2 separate regions of the Homo sapiens genome follow, and region 2 is linked to region 1. Evidence: fine-mapped expression QTL. A gene starts in region 1. The other region holds a variant in brackets. All regions are shown on one strand. Distances are from middle to middle.

Region 1 (5,360 bases):
CTTGTGGGGGCTGTAAGGCCAAGCCTGGGGGGGTAAGGACCCCACCTCAGAGCCCTATTGGCTTCCCCAGGCCCTGCCATGCCTTGGAAAAGTCCCTTCCCAAGAGGAGCCCACGGAGGGCACAGTTGTTCTCTGGGGGGTGTCTCACCCTCCTTAGGCACTCAAGGAGGCTGCTCTGTAGCCACTCCTAAGAAGTAGTCCCCATCCCCTCACCCCCAACTCCACCAGCCCTGGGCCTTCCTCACTCCAACGGGCCTCTTTATAGCCACAAATATTCATCCTAGGCCTCCCAATGGACACTAAGGACTGGGCTACTACAAACCGTTGACCCTGAACCGAAGCTTGACCTCATGTCCTGAGCAATTTCAACTCTCTGCCCCAGCCTAGCCCAGCTGAGGTCTCTGCACAGAGTCAAGGTTGCCACCCCCAACGCACTTAATGGCCGAGAGAGCCCTGCTGTCTTCCCCCCCTGCCCCTCCCTGTGCCGCATCTTTCTCCCCTTCACCTCTGAAATTATGTGGGCCCAGTTCAGATGGGGCAGAGGCAGGCCAGCAAGCACCCGAGAAACAGGCCGAAGGACAGACCCAGAGACAGGTGGAAAAGACAGGTAGAGGAAGAGTGGACAGTCAGGTGGACAGGTGGATAGGCAGATGCACAGACAGGCACCCGGATAACTGCACAGGCCACAGATGGATGGAAACAGGCAAGCAGAAGGACTGCGGACAGTTAGGTGGAAGGGTGAGCAGACTGGCCAACTCGCACACAGGTGGAAACTCAGGCTGGCAGAGGGACAGCCAGGCCAGCAGGAGGGCTGCTAGACAGTCAGGTGGGCAGGCAGGTGGGCCACCCAGGAGACCCCAGCGCCAAAGGGCCCTCTCTGGTGGCAGCAAAAAGGGATTAATAGCCACACATTTTCCAGGGACCAGAGGTCTCTCTCTGGGCACCTCTGAGCGTCCCAGCGTCAGGCCCAGCCCTTCAACTGATATCTGCGGGGCCTCTCATGTTCCTGGCTGGGCCAGGCCGTACCCCAAGACTGAGCTCTGAGCTGCCAAAATTCACTCTTCACACCCAAGAGGGGTCAGTGTTTTTGAAAGTTGTAGGAGCCTGGTGAGAGGGAGGAGGGGGCCCCAGCAGCGTCAGTGTTTCCAAACCTACCCCTCTCCTCTTTCTTTTTCCCCTGGTGCCTAGAGCCAGGCCTGGTGCTGCCAGCCAACAAGGCAGGCGAGCTGGGCCAAGCCGGCAGGGTAGGGCAGGGCAGGCAGGGCGGCCGCCGTTGCCACTGGGAAGTTGAGGGTGGAGGGGAAGACTGAGCGAAGACACAGATCAAGTCGGACACAGCATATGCGAGTGTCAGGGCCCAGGGGGCCCACAGGGACCCCCACACACCCACAGTCAGCTGGGCAGGGGTAGGAATGAGGGCCGCCCTGGAGAGGAGCACCCCTGAGGGGAGCCCTTCATAGCTCAGAGCTGGGGAGCAGGTGACAGAAGCGTGTGGGAGCCAAGGGTTCCTCTTTGTGTCTGGGACACAGGGAGGCAGGGGTGGGGAAGAGGAAAAGGGCGCCCACTCCAGGGGCCCCAGACTTCGCCAAGCGGACTTGGGGGAGGCAGCTGGCGGTCGGGAGTACCTGGGACAGAGGAGCAGAGATTGGCGGTCAGGATGGAAATAAGCAGTTGCGGTGCGGGGAGGTCAGAAGCGAGGTCAAGCAGGGGTCAGGCCTGGGAGATCAGGGCTTAGGGTCGGGCTCAGCGAGGGGATCAGAAACCGGGCTTAGGCCTGGGGGGAGAGAGATGAGGGTCGGCCCTGAGGCAGGGGGGTAGAAGGCGGAGCCAGGGCGGGGCGGCCGTGCCCCGGGAGGCCAGGCTTGCGCGGGGAAACGCGGAAGGGCGCGGGGTCGCAAACTCACATGAAGACGTGGTAGACGAAGGCCCAGCCGCGGGGCCGCTCCAGCACGTTGTAGACCCAGTTCTGCAGGCGGCGGTAGCGCTTGTGCGCGGCCGAGGAGCGCTGGCCGCAGGCGGAGCCCGAGCCGGAGCCCGGCCCAGGGAGGGGCGCGCCCGGCGGCAGGGGGCTGCCCAGGAGGCCGAGGCGGCGCGGGGAGCCGCCCCCGCCCGCCTCGCCCTGTTCGCTCTGCACGGCCGTGAGCGCCACTAGCTCCGCGCGGGGGGCGTCCCCGGGCGGGGGACCCAGGCCGAGGCGGCGCGGGGGGGCCTCGGCCATGGGCGGCGCCGGGCTGGGGGCGCCGGGGCCCGGGCACGGTCCGGGGCGGGGGCGCGCTCGGGGCGCTCAGAGACGCATGGCTCGGACCCGGGGCCAGAGGGGCGACCCGGGGCGGGCGCGGGCGGCGGGGGCTAGGGGCCGGGCCGGGGCCGCGGGCGGGCGCTCGGAGCCTGGGGGCCGCCGGAGCCCGCACTGACCTCCCGCTTCCCCGGCGACTGGGGCTGCTCTTTCCGACTCCAACTCTCTTATTACGCGCTCCATGCCGCTCGCCTTTCCACCTGCCACCGGCGCGCGCCGCTCACATGTCACCCTCCCCCGCCCCGCCCCTCCCCCGCCCGCCCCGCGGCCGCCTTCCCAAATCGGGAGGGAGCGAGCGAGCAAGCGAGGCGAGGCGGAGGGAGGGAACGCGCGGAGCAGGCGGCGGGGCAGGGCGCACGGGCGGCCGAGTTGGTGCCTGGGCCGAACCGCGTGGCGGGGGCAGCGCGCGGGGCCGGGAAGCCGGACGCGTGCAAGTGGTGTCCACCGCTGCGTGGGGCAGTGTGGCCCCGAAGGCCAGCCCGGGGTGGGACGCCTCGTGTGTGCTTGTGGAAAGTGGAATGTGGAGTTGTGGCCGCGGGCGGCAGGGGAAGGGACGCAGTGTCCCGTGGAGTTTAGGTGTAGACCGGTGGAACGGCGTCTACTTGTGTGTGCAGGGTGGGTGGCTGTGGGTCTACCAGGTGCGGGGATGGAGTCAGTGAGGTGTGAGTTATGGGTCGGGTGTGGGTGGCTGCGAAAGTGGAGGTGGAGTCCGAAGGGGATGAGGTGTGTCCGTTGGGGTCGAGCACTGTGTGCCTGGTGCGGGTGCTTAAAGTGTGCCCAGTGCTGTGTGTGGCTGGGTGGGCAGCGGCGGTTGTCCTGCTCTTACCTGAAAGGCCTGGAGCCCACGGGCTGCTAGGCAGCATCAGGGTGTGTGGAACACAGTGGGCCTGGGTGTGTCTTTCTCCCACCAACTGCCACCTCTGAGCTTCCCTTCATCGTGATGGGGGAAGAGCCACCCTGCCCAGAAGAGGATCCTCCCCGATGGAGGGGCCTGCTCCCCTGCCCCACTCCCAGGTCAGGGAACTGGGTTTGGGCAGATGGAGTGTTGGGAGATGAGCTCTAAGCCAGCCTTAGAGGGGACACACACCCCCTACCCAAGGCCCACAGAATCCCAGCCAGAAAAGGGGATACTTTGTCCCAGGGCATTCCCTCTCCAGCTGGAAAGTTTTTCTTAGTCCCCGACCTCCATCTCTCTGGCTGTAGGGGGCAGTCCCTCTCCTTTAGCCCTCCTGGGCCCTGCACAGGGTTGGTAACTTGGGTTTCCCGATCCTCTTTCCCTCTTCCTCCACGGAAAGCTGCGGCCACACCAGCCGCTCCCTCCGCAGGCCCTGCCCCAGGGTGAGCCTTCCGCAGCAAACTCTTCCCGGTTCCTCCGGGAGGATCTCGAGGGACGAAGCCGAGCGGGAGGGGCGGGGGAAGGGGCGGGAAGGCGAGCTCGATTCTCAGCTGTCAGCAAAGGCAGCATTGATCTGCTGAGCGCCAGTGAGGGAGGGAGGGAGGCAGGGCCGTGGGCTGCAGGGATCTGTGGGGTCCCTAAACTGGGCTTGGCAACCGGCCCACACCCCTACCCCATAGTGATCCTTTCCCCTCTGCCTAGCTGGGGGTGCCCTCTGGGGTCTGACCTGAATCTCTTCTGCTGCTCCTGGTCCAGGTGTGCCCAGGGCCAGAGCCGGGTGCCCCAGGGCAGGTTATGCCCGGATCCTCTACTGGAAGCTGGGGACAGTTTCTGGACCCCAAGGCCCCACTAGGGATGTGGTGCCTGGGCTGAGTTAACCCATCTTCTCTCTATGAGCTGAAGATGGCACCCCCAAAATATGCAGCACTGTCCTCCCTCTGTGGAACTGCCTGGCTGGTTCTTCTCAATCATAGATCCTGGGAAATGGGACTAAGGTCTAGGACATGAAAGGTGCACAGGAAAGCAGTTGCAAGCGCCCTGGGGGTGTTTCTAGGGGGTCTTTTTGAGGCTCTTGTTCTGTAGCAGAAATGGAATTTGAATTCAGGTTGCCCTTAACACCCAGAATATCTGAAACTGGGTCTGTTCTGGGAAATCTAATCTTCAAGCTCAGCATCACCTCTGGATCCCATGGCTCTCTTCCCAGCTGGGGGACTACAAAGGTCCCTTCCCCACCTTGTGAGGAGCCCTCACTGCAGGGAGTGTCTCATCATTCCCAACTCCAGCTCCAGATTACCTGCTCAAAGGCAGCAGAAAGAGGAAAGAGACTGTGGTTGCAGCTAGAGGGATGGAAGTTAGATCTCAGGAAGGACTTTCATAGGGCATAGAAGCCTGTTTCTCCTGCGGGCGTATGGGTAATGGAGGGACACAGAACTCTTCCTAAGGGGTGAGAGGGATGGGGGAGATGGTTCCAGGAGGCCACAGCAAATTTACTTGGCATATGTGTACACATGGAAGAGTGGAAGGGCCAGAAGAGAAAGTCCAGTTCAGAGAGGACAGGTGGCCACTCTTAGGGTCACCGGGTGGCCTTCCTGCGCCATCCGGATTCCCAGGACATGACTGGGAGGACGGACTTTCCCCACCACAACCTTTAGTGACTAAGACACTTTTCTGAGCAAACAGCTGTCTCAGGCTCCCTCAATTGGCCCCTCTGCTGGAGGGGACTGGACACCGTGGTTCCCTACCCTCCTCCTTCCCTCTCCCACCTGTTCCCCTGACCCCACCCTCAGCAGTTTCCTTTCCACCCCCAGGCCCTGTCTCCACCCTGGTAACACTGCGAAAGCTTCCCTGCCCCACTGAGGAGACAGACGCACTCACTAAGACTCACTCCCACCTGGGCAAGTCTCTTCCCCACCCTGGACTTGTTTCCCCATCTGTGCAAGAAGTGGGCAGGGCTCCAAGATCTTCTGTAATTCATCACTGTCCCCATCAGCCATCAATGGAGCAAGTATTGACTGAGAGGAAGGGTGGGAGGGCGAGTGCTTCCATTTGCTGAGTGCCATCTGTGTGCCAGGCCCAGTCCCTTTTGGGCCAGAGAGCAGCAGCTTGCTTGAGACAGCTGAGGCTCTGAGAGGCACAGGGACTCACCTAAGTCTACACAGCCTATTGGTG
Region 2 (5,360 bases), 37 kb before region 1:
TGACCACCCCCACCCCCAGATCTTCCCTCATACACATTGTATTTCTTACAAATCAGCCCTGCCCCACTCTCGAATGCCCAGCCTTGAACAAAAGGCCTCTCTTCTAATCTAGTCACCTTCCCACTCTGAGGTAGGAGCTTGCCTCTGCCGGGTGGAGAGATGTGGGGGCACCAGTGTGATGCTGGGAGCCCCTCTTCCCGGCCCCTTCTCTCCTGCTTCTCCCCTGGGAAGCCCCTAGGGCTGGGAGGGCGCAGGGATGGGGAAGCCAGGTGCAGAGGCGAGTGGAATCGCGCAACAGCTTCTCCTGGAGAACTAATGAGGCAAAAAAGGCACCCGCAGAAGCGCTGAGCACAGCATCCTGCCCCAGCCACAAGCTTGATGCCCGCCTGCCCGTGGGACCGAGCTGGGCTCCATGGTTTTCATTCCTGCCTGAGGGCCTAGCCAGGCACCTGGCCACACGCACCTTTGTGATGCTATTAATAATCCCTCTCCTGGTGCCACCCCCATGCAGTCTTAGCCTGGCCCGGGCCAGTGGGGCAGACCCACTTCTGGGCCCTGAGGCTGCTGACTGGCCCAGTAAAAGTGGGCACATATTCCTACATGGGGGTTCAGGGTAGGAGCATGCACCTAAGTCTGGAACACATGTTTCTGCCCATCCCACACTTTCTCCAACCAGCTGCAATATCCACTAACTCTGTCCCCCATTCAGGACTGAGGGGAGACGAGCTGGCTGTATCACTGCCCTAGATGGCATCACCTATGGGTGAGCATGCACACTGCCAGCACTCCAGGGCCGGGGTTCAGCCATGGGGCAGGGCTTCACCAATGCCCTATGTCCAGTATCCACCTCTTCCCTGGGCATAGCAGAGTGGAATAAAGGACACTCCAGGCTCTGAATTACATAGGATCTGCAGAGCCAGCCCAGGGTGCTCCCCTGGGAGCCATCACCCCCTTTCCACCCTCCAGGGTTGAGTCTCAGCCACTTGTCCTCAAAGGGCATTGCTGCCAGCCCCCCACCCACCCCCACCCCCAGCAGGACCTACCTGAAGGATGGGAGGATACTGTCATAGTAGTACCAGGTGGCTGTCAGGTAGGCCCGGCTCATATCGGTGGAGTACAGGCGCCAGGCAGCCTGGTGGTATGGGGGACGTGGGGGATGGGGCATCAGTGAGGCCTCTCAGTCCCCACCAGCCCTCTCCCCTGAAAGAACCCAGTCCTTGGTCCAGTTGTGGGTTACCCAGAGCCAGAGGCCAGTTCCAATTCCACAGCCACTGACAGGGGCAGCCAAGAAAGTAAGGCCTAGGGAGAAACGACTTCCCCGAGGGGACAAAGCAGATCAATGTCAGAGCCAGGGGCCATAGAGCATAGAGGTTAAGAGCTGGAGTTTTGTTGTCAGGCAGACATGGGTTTCCAATCCCAGCTCTGCCCCTTATTAGTGAGGACAAATTAAGTAAAGCTTCAGGACCTCAGTTTCTTCACCTGTAAAACGCATGTAACACTACTTGCCTACCAGGGTGTTGTGAGGATTAAATGAACAGTTGTATATTAAATGCCAAGCTCAGTGCCTGGTATATAGTAGGCACTTCATGCCAGGTTCCTCTGTTAAACACTCCTGTTATTCCCCTTATCACATTTGATGAATACCTATTCATTGTGTATTTGACTGATAACTTTCTCTCCCCCTAGACTGCAAGCTGTGTCTTTGTTACCGCTGCATTCTCAGTGCAAATATAGTGTCTGGCACATGTGGGTGCTTTGCAAATGTTTGCAGAATGTCATTATTATTACTAGCAATGCCACTCCATCTTTCCCAGCTGCCTGTCACTGCCCATGGGAATACTAAGGACTGAGAGGGGAGGAAAAGCATTACCTACCAACCCCTCAGCATCCATGGGCTTGCCGAGCTTCCTCTGCAGCAGGAGGGATGAAAGTCAGACAGGAGGAGAGACTGTCCCTCTCCCTCCACGTAGGAAGAGCCAGGGAGGGACTGTGAGTGTGGCCATCAGTGAGAGCAGGGAGGCATGGAGGCTGCTAGGCAGGACAAGGCAGAGCTGGGCCCTGGACGCCTCCCTTCTTTGGATGCCTCTTGTCCTTAAGGGGCTGCCACTGCTGACCTCACCAGCCAGGCACCCTCCTAAGACAGGAATATTTTTACTTCCTGCTTGCCTAGGCCCCTGGCATGGGCTGGGGAGCAGCTGCCAGAGCTGTCTCATTAATTATGGGCACCACAATAC[T/C]AGCTGTCTCTTGGCATGGACAGTGCCAGCCGCCTGCCCCTACAATGCCCCTCAGAAGGCCAGCTCCCAGGGGACAGTGGCCATTGTGCCCCAAGGGACGCTAAGAAGAAAAGGCTGAGCTGGTGGCTGGAGATAACAGCGACAGGGAGGAGGGTTCTACCCTGGGGAGGAGAGATAAGGAAGGGCTGAGTGAGGCTTGGGTTTGGGGCTCAGAGGGTGACAGGCTAGGGAGCAGGCAGAGGTGGACTGGGCCAGTATTCCCTGAAGCATTTCCTGCAAGGAGTTCCCTTACACACACCCCTGACTAGAAAAAGCCAAGGCCTAGTCCCAGGGTCACAGAAAATCAGAGCCCTGGCCTCAGCCCACACACAGTCACAACACGCCATGGCACAGAGGGAAACTGAGACCACACACTCCTGGCTTCCTACCCACCCCTCTGGCTGTTCCTTCTGTCTCCTTGCCCAGCTCAACTTTGCAGGCCCACCCACCTGCTAAATGTTGAGATTCCTAAAAGCCCTGTCTGCACCATCCTCTCTTCATTTGTGTGAGTGCTTGTGGAATGAATGAATGAATGAAGGTGCTGGAAGTGGGGCAGGCTTACTGCTGCACAGCTGATGGGGGCAGCAGTGGGTCTCCACCAGAGGCCTCCCAGCTCCTGTCTGGGCTCCGCCCCTCCCCAGGCCCTGTGAAGTTGGGCTGGAGTTGGGCAATAGGGCAGTTCTGGCTAGCCCTAAACCAGGCATTTGGTGCAGGGGGAAGTTTCTGGCACTGTCAGTGAGCATCCTGGCTCTGTGTGTGACTTGGCATGTGGCTCCAGGAAAGTCACATAGCCCTTTTGAGCTTCAAAGTGGTGTCACAGTTGGGCTGGGGACATGGGTCAGCACACAGGGTTGACACACCAGTGCAGTCACACGGCCCTGCTCCTAGGGCTTCTTCCCGGGCATCTTGTACCTGGATGAGGTTGGCTGCCGGCATCCTCCGCTTCTCGAAGTGCTTCTGCCGGTGCTGCTCCTGGACCTTCAGGGCAAAGCCGGAGCCTAGGATGCCCTAGAGGGATAGGGCATGGTTGGGGGAATGTGCTGGCAGTGGTGGGGCAGTAAGAGGCTGCAAGGGTGTCCCCATCCTTGCCCCTCTGAGGTACCCCAGGCTCCCCAGGCAAATGTGTGACAGGGGTGAGCAGGTCCCACCCTCAGCCTCCCCCACCAACTGAGCAGGAGGCAACTCACGGCAGGCAGGGCAAAGAAAGAGATGCCCAGTAAGGCGAAGCCAGCAGCCAGGACCCTGCCCAGCCATGTGTGCGGTGTCTTGTCACCATAGCCGATGGTTGTCAATGTAATCTGGAGACACAAACAGGTTACAGGCAGGACTGGTCACGGGGGCCACCTACGGCTTGTTGGGGGTACAGGCAGGTAGGAGCCTGATCATGAGGGAAGGGGCCCCTGGTCACCCACGGGGGCTGGTTAGGGTCATAGATGGATTCTCCCTCTCCTGGGCTGGTCAGGGGAAAGGGGTATAGTCACAAGGTCTTGATGTGCGGGGCTAGCTGGGGACAGAGGCAGGTCCACCAGAGCAGGTTGGGGGGTTAGCATTGGGGCTGGTCTCAGGGGGGTCCCAGCTCTAGTGAGAGGGCAGGGGCAGGCCCGCTCAACCCTGAGTCAGGAGTCACGATGGGCAGACCTCGGGAAGTTCCCAGGGAGGATCCCAGGGAGAAGGGCAGCCCTACAAAGACCCTCACGCACCGTCCCCCACCAGAGCGAGTCGGCGTAGGAGGAGAAGTCGGAGTTGGCGTCCTTCTCAGCCAGGTAGACCAGGAAGGAGGCGAAGATGAGCACCAGGAACCCGATGTACCAGGCGGTGATCAGCTCCTGCGGGGCAGGCGGAGGGGCGCGGTGAGGAGCGCTGTGCCTGCCTGGGAGATGTGGGGGGCTTCCACACGGGAAAGGGATAAAGGTCCCCCATCTCCCGGAGTCCCAGGCTCGCTTTTCTTTCTCAGCTCCTCCCATCACGGCGACCCTGCCCCGGCCTTCGCGAAACCGCCAGCACTCCCCCTACCCCGACCCCCATTCCCACCCCCACCCTCACCCCGCCTGCCTTGAGTCTCCAGGTTCCAGGCTCAGGACTCCAGCACCCGGCCTACCTTGCCCCGTCCCCCAAGTCCCACTTTCAGGCTTCCACCTGGGGCCCACCCTAGCCCCGCTCCAGCCCCACCCTCAAGTCCCACCTCAGCTGCCCACTTTGTGGTACGAGTGGTCCCTTCAAACCCAGAAGCATCCAGGGGAAACCCTCAAGCCCCGCCTCTCCGGCCCCGCCCCCTGATCCGGTCCGGACTCCTAGGCCCGCCCCTACCTAATTCAGAATCCACTTCGCCCCACCCGCTTAGACCTCGCCTCCTGCTAGGGCTCCAACCCCCGCAGGCCACACCCCTTCCCAGCACGGAGACAGCCCCTCTGACCTCGCCCTCTCCGCCCTGCCCGCTCTGGTCGTGCCCCAGACACGCCCTCGGGTCTCCGCGCGCGGCTTGCAGGCCTCACCTTGCTATGCGCGTAGACCACTGAGCCCAGCAGCTTCCAGGTGCCGCCGCGGCGGTCCATGCGCACCATGCGCAGGATCTGCAGGAAGCGCATGCTGCGCAGCGCGGACGTGGCGAAGATGTTGCCCTGGGTACCCGCGGCGATGACGGCCACCGAGGCCACGAACACGATGAAGTCTGCAGGGGCGGGGGCGGCGAGATCACAGCCAGCCTACCCCGCGCACGGACCCGGAGGCGGGGACTTCTGGGGATGTGGCAGGGGACTGGGGAGGGAGGGGGAGGGTCCGCTGAATCTGTGCGGGTCTCCAGGGTCAGAGTCGGGATTGGGAGTAAAGGCGTCACCCTGGCTCCTGGGGTCAGGGGTCAGGTCGGGCGGGGCGCGCCTCATTACCGATGACACAGAAGGGCTTTCTGGCAAAGCGGAAGCGACCCTGCCATCCTCGGTAGCGGCAGCAGCATCCGGCGGACCAGACCCGGACGATGTACTCCAAGCCGAAAACCACGATCATCACGAATTCCTGTGGGACCAGGGGCCTGAGTTCTGGTCCTCAGTCTCCAGAACTGGGGCCCAGGTCACAGCGCGGACCCAGCCAAGA

Alleles and levels. Alleles are on the strand shown, and positions count from the first base shown. SD is a standard deviation of normalised expression in the study named.
In carriers of allele T in region 2, the expression in spinal cord of the gene that starts at base 2,525 in region 1 tends to be lower than with C alone (moderate effect, 0.71 SD a copy in GTEx).

What was found.
Region 2: its variant is fine-mapped to the expression of KCNQ4 in spinal cord (GTEx, PIP above 0.99).

What each region holds. Positions count from the first base shown.
Region 1 is chr1:40,780,952-40,786,311 of GRCh38, reverse strand. KCNQ4 (potassium voltage-gated channel subfamily Q member 4) reads right to left here and starts at 2,525. Exons shown (of 14, transcript NM_004700.4): 1 at 1,905-2,525. The coding sequence starts at 2,218.
Region 2 is chr1:40,818,086-40,823,445 of GRCh38, reverse strand. KCNQ4 (potassium voltage-gated channel subfamily Q member 4) reads right to left here. Exons shown (of 14, transcript NM_004700.4): 3 at 5,156-5,282; 4 at 4,766-4,941; 5 at 3,974-4,099; 6 at 3,461-3,571; 7 at 3,186-3,281; 8 at 1,044-1,132. Among named protein-coding and RNA genes, the nearest start is that of KCNQ4, 37 kb to the right of the region's middle. RefSeq lists cis regulatory regions at 2,354-2,371, 2,396-2,413, enhancers at 2,290-2,434, 2,332-2,476, 2,188-2,689, 4,894-4,943 and a silencer at 4,514-4,573. The variant T/C (reference allele first, on the strand shown) is at 2,235.